Regions from separate parts of the Homo sapiens genome. Here region 1 is linked to region 2. The links come from fine-mapping of genetic effects on gene expression. Tissue or cell type: blood mononuclear cells. Region 2 holds a variant in brackets; the other region holds the start of a gene. All regions are shown on one strand. Distances are between the middles of the regions.

Region 1 (2,681 bases), 62 kb after region 2:
TATACCATCTAATCCAGACTGACAAGGAAGAGTATCCTTTTCATTTTTCCTTAAAAGACAAGAAGAAAGAAGAAAGAGAGACAGAAAAGAAAGAAAGAAGTCTCTCTTTTGTTACTGCAGTTTTTAAAAGCTATATTGTACATAAAGCTACAGTAAACTAAGCTCCTAACAGGCCAAACCTTATCTCACTCTAAAACTGTAATTCCTCCTGCCTGTGGCCAAATTTATGGACAATATTAGTAAAAACATAGTACACAGTCGGGCAGGGTGGCTCACGCCTGTAATCCCAGCACTTTGGGAGGCCGAGAGGCGGATCACGAGGTCAGGAGATCGAGACCATCCTGGCTAACACGGTGAAACCCTGTCTCTACTAAAAATACAAAAAAATTAGCCGGGCGTGGCGGCATGCGCCTGTAGTCCCAGCTGCTGGGGAGGCTGAAGCAGGAGAATGGCGTGAATCCGGGAGGCAGAGGTTGCAGTGAGCCGAGATCGCGCCACTGGACTCCAGCCTGGGTGACAGAGCAAGACTCCGTCTCAAAAAAAATAAAATAAAAATAAAAATAAAATAAAAACATAGTACACATTACGACTTAAGTAGTTGAAATTTGTGCCAAGTTTGAGCAACAAATGAGTTGCTCAAAAACATTTTAAGGTGATTACTTGGAAGAATAAACAAACACCTTCAAACTTTTCAGAATCGCTCATTGTAACTGGTATCCAAATTACAATTTTTTAAATCTATTCACTCCAATCATACAAAGCCCTACAAGCAGTTGTATATTTGAAGGCAATTTAAGCTTTCTTTCAATAATTATTCAGACTTTACACGAACTTAATCGACCTTCTCTGAATGTGTCTAAATTTGGTTAGGTATTTGCAGATTAGCCACATCTGTAAACATTTGTATAAGGAGGTGAAACAAATAGATTTTACCATGCTTTCTTATTCCATAAAGTCCATAAAGCATTCTAAATCAAATGTAGAGTATCACGTCACATCCAGAATAAAAGTAAAAATAATGGATCACAACTTAAAATTACAGTGCTGTCTTTAATTAAAAAACTTGTTCATTTCTCACTGTGCACAATGTAGCACTAACATGGTCTTCCGAACACTGCTGCTTGGTATAAAACCGAGAAATATTAAAGACCAGGAATAAGGTTATGTGTCCTATGGGTACATTTCGGAAAAGAAAATACATCCAACGAGTATGACTCTAGATAGGATTTTGTACACCCTCAACAAGTGACAAAATTCAAAACTAGGTAACCGCCCTCATAAGGTACTTGAAACTAAAATTTTTGCCACGAAAACATGGCATGTGCAAAAGTTCTCTCTCTGGCCATCACTCCTGCTAAGGACACTGGGAAGGACATGGTCAACGTAGCAGTCGATCAAAAAGATTCCAGGGAAACTGCGCAACAGCCTGGGGCCGAGAAGCGAAACTTGGGTCTTCTCCACCCTCGTCGCACTCCTTTTCCCCGAGACTTGGTACTGGGAGATAGGACGGGAGTCTCCTACACGCAGTCAACACTTGCCACGAGCGGCTAGACTTAGGACAGGCAAGTTGCCCTGCCATCCTTCTATCGCCCCCACCCCTCCTTTACTTAAGGGCGATGGCAGAGACGTCCTCCTCCCCCTTCTCCTCCTCTTTGGTGCCTCCAGCCAGGAGGCGGGAGCGATCCACAGCAGCTGACCCAGCTCAGGCACTGCCTCTCTCACAGCCCTCAAGACACACCATGGGCCCAGAGGCAGGTTTGCTACACAGCAGCGACGACGCAGGCGGCGGCCCCAGCGACTCGCAACTGCCTCCCTGACCACAGCGGCCACCGCCCAACACCCCCGAGAAGCCATCGCCACCACCGGCAGGAGAACCTAGGGTCCATAAAGCCATCTTCGCGATCGACTAAAGCTACGTCAACAACTATGGCGGGCGACGGGCGGCGGGCAGAGGCGGTGCGGGAAGGATGGGGTGTGTACGTCACCCCCAGGGCCCCCATCCGAGAGGGAAGGGGCCGGCTCGCCCCTCAAAATGGCGGCAGCAGCGATGCGCCTGCGTACAGAACTCCTCCGTCGCGCCAGGGCCGGCGGGAAGTGAGGTTCTCGGACGAGCCGCCAGAAGTGTACGGCGACTTCGAGCCCCTGGTGGCCAAAGAAAGGTCCCCGGTGGGAAAACGAACCCGGCTAGAAGAGTTCCGGTCCGATTCTGCGAAAGAGGAAGTGAGAGAAAGCGCGTACTACCTTCGGTCTAGGCAGCGGAGGCAGCCGCGACCCCAGGAAACCGAGGAAATGAAGACGCGAAGGACTACCCGCCTTCAGCAGCAGCACTCAGAGCAGCCTCCGCTACAGCCGTCTCCTGTTATGACCAGGAGAGGGCTGCGGGACTCTCATTCCTCTGAAGGTGAGGACCGCGGAGGTAACAGTCCCAGCCGCGAGCCAGGGAACGCGCGGGGGCGGGCGCGCGCCTCGGTGGAGCTCATGCCCGCCTGGGTACTAAGTACTGGGATTGGCTAAAGGGTATTCCTCAGCCCCCTCTGGACTTGTGCCGCCGTGCAAGGGCCACCCTGACCCGCAGCGGGGAAGGAAGCGCCGACCGGAGGAGTGGAAAGATGGTCGTGTGGAGCGACCCGGGCAGGGCTGGGGCGCTCTGCCCAACATCGGGCATCAATTTAGGGGAGTCA
Region 2 (2,681 bases):
CGCTATCCTGGGAGTCTCGGCCTTAGGCGGTTTGGTGATCTTCCCCTGGAAATAATCAGTGGGTCCTGAGCAGCACTTGTAAACTTGAATGTAGAAAGCTGGGTGAGAAGTTTTCATCCTCCGCACTGTTCAGGCCCAAAAAAGTTGGAGGCAGAGGCTGTCGTCAAAGTGGCACATTGCCCTCATACCCGGGGGCTTTCCAACCAACAGCTCTGGCACCCCAGATTCCAGCAGCCCCATAATGGCATCATTCAGCCCACATCCCCAAAACCTGTCCATGTCACTCTGCCCCTGGGGCTTCTGCAGGGACTTCAAGGAGAAGCTTCTTTCACCATAAAAACATCTCACCCAGTTTTCTACGCTCAAATTTACAAGTGCTGTTCAGGGACTATTGATTATTTACAGGAGAAGATCGCCAAACTACCTAAGACTGAGACTCCTGGGATAGGGCAGCATACCCCGGAGTCCCCCAGCTCGATTTGCTCGGAACTCAGAAAGAAAACGGCCTACACTCCTTGAACCTCAGGCACTGACGGAGGCATTTTCTAAAGAACAGTGACAAGGACGGCCAGTACCTCCCCCGCAGTCTGACTCAAGCTACTCCTCCACCCTCCTCCCCAGCTGGCCCCTCTCTCCACCAGTTCCCCCTCCCAACGGCCATCCTTCCTTCATCGCCGGCCTGTCAGCTCGCTGGGTGGAGAACCAAGTAGTGCACAACCTCTCAGAACACACCACTTGCACCTTCACAGCGTGCCTCGGAGGGAGTGGCACATGGCTCCATCCTCCAGCCCAGCACACAGCACCCCTCATGCAGCTGGCTCATGCTGAGGATGGCAGGAGGAGGTGAAGGCGGAGCTCCCGGGTCACAAAGCCATTATCTCTTTTCTCCTGTGACCTAACACCCCAGCAGACACAGCAGTCTAGTGGCAGCGGTTAGAAGGTGGGATTTGGAAGCAGACTTCAGCTGGAATCCTGACTCTACCACTTACTGTGTGACTTTAGGCAACTTTGGGGACCTCTCTCCTTCTCAGTTTTCTCACTTGTAAAATTGGGATCATAATGCCCACTGTATTCCATGAAAATTAAGTGAGCTGACTGGGTGCGGTGGCTCACACCTGTAATCCCAGCACTTTGGGAGGCAGAGGTGGGCAGATCGCCTGAGCTCAGAAGTTCGAGACCACCCTGGGCAACATGGTGAAATCCTGTCTCTACTAAAACACAAAAAATTAGCCGGACGAGGTGACAGGCATCTGTAGTCCCAGCTACTTGGGAGGCTGAGGCACCAAGAATCACTTGAGTCCCGGAGGCGGAGGTTGCAGTGAGCCAAGACTGCACTACTGCACTCCAGCTTGGGCTACATAGTGAGACACCATCTCAAAAAAAAATTAAGTGAGCTGACACCTCACTTAATTTTAATGGATACAGTGGGCATTATGGTCCCAATGTGACACCTCACATTAATGATAATGGCACATGTGGTAGCCACTATCATTAGCAGTATAGCCAAGTCCAAACTCTACCACTCACAACATGACAGCCAATAAGTTGAGAGAAGGTGTTGGGGTAAGGAAGATGACTTTATTTCTGGGAGCTTCCAACTGAGAAGATGGAGGACCAATGTCCTAAAGAACATTTTTTTTTTTTT[T/G]TGTGAGTCGGAGTCTCACTCTGTTGTCCAGGCTGAAGTGCAATGGCACAATCTTCAGCTCACTGCAACCTCCACCTCCTGGGTTCAAGCAATTCTCCTGCCTAGGCCTCCCGAGTAGCTGGGATTACAGGTGCCCGCCACCACTCCCAGCTAATTTTTGTATTTTTAGTAGAGATGGGGTTTCACCACAGGCTGGTCTCTTGGCCAGGCTGGTCTCGAACTCCTGACCTCGTGATCCTCCTGCCTAAGCCTCCCAAAGTGATGGGATTACGGGCATGAGCCACCGTGCCCAGCCAGAACCAACTTAGATTGATAGATTTTTTTAGGCTTCTTTCATATTAGAGGAAGAGGGACCATGCAGGGGGTGAAGGTCTGGAGGTGACTGGAGGCCACAGACATCTGGCTGTCATCAGGGGTCCAAGGAGGTTGCAAAACTTCTTTGTTCATGGTCAACTGCTTGTCAGATCCACCTTGTTGCTCTAAGTCTTTCAGACAGCACTGTTACTTGAGTGCACACTTCCTCATCTCCTCAGGAGTCTGTTTCAAAAGAGAGGTGGTCATTAGTACTAGCGTTAAACTGTAATCAAAATGCTTTTCGTGGTTAGCTTGGCCTGTGTCTAGGGATGAGCAAAGGCAGTTGGCTTATGAGGTTAGAAGCAAGATGGAGTCAGCGATGTTAGATTTCTCTGGCTGTTACAGTAGGATATACAGACAGAACCGAATCTGGAGGCAGCAGGGCCCCCCACAGGGGCTACTTAGGCAACAGGAAGGAAGGTTCCCTCTGGGCTCTCCCATTCTCCCCACTGCACCAATGTCCACACCTGCACTCAGTCCCTCCTCCCTCGTACTACTTGGTTCTCCACCCAGTGAGCTGCCGGGCGATGAAGGACGGATGGCCGTTGGGAGGTGGAGAGAGGGGCCAGCTGGGGCCAGCCTGTGCCACTACTGCCAGGTCCACCTCTCTCTCTGTGTGGAACCTCCCACCTCTGCCAGTAACTCTGCCTGTGACTCACTGAGGGACCCATGCTCCCAGCAA

Evidence for each region. PIP is the estimated chance that this variant, and not a neighbour inherited with it, causes the effect.
Region 1: it holds the start of TOR1AIP1, and the variant in region 2 is fine-mapped to the expression of TOR1AIP1 in blood mononuclear cells (TOPMed, PIP 0.95).

Annotation. Positions count from the first base shown.
Region 1 is chr1:179,880,577-179,883,257 of GRCh38, forward strand. TOR1AIP1 (torsin 1A interacting protein 1) reads left to right here and starts at 1,709. Exons shown (of 10, transcript NM_015602.4): 1 at 1,709-2,401. The coding sequence starts at 1,927. It overlaps LOC139427322, which reads left to right and starts at 1,740. Exons shown (of 1, transcript NM_001436163.1): 1 at 1,740-1,817. The coding sequence starts at 1,740. The coding sequence ends at 1,817. RefSeq lists enhancers at 1,075-1,613, 1,526-1,635, 1,614-2,151, 1,656-2,415, 1,978-2,272 and 1 more.
Region 2 is chr1:179,818,268-179,820,948 of GRCh38, forward strand. It overlaps LINC02818 (long intergenic non-protein coding RNA 2818), which reads right to left. Exons shown (of 3, transcript XR_001738312.3): 3 at 1,559-2,182. LOC105371634 (a long non-coding RNA gene) reads right to left here and starts at 1,151. Exons shown (of 5, transcript XR_007066756.1): 1 at 719-1,151. RefSeq lists an enhancer at 253-1,238. The variant T/G (reference allele first, on the strand shown) is at 1,646.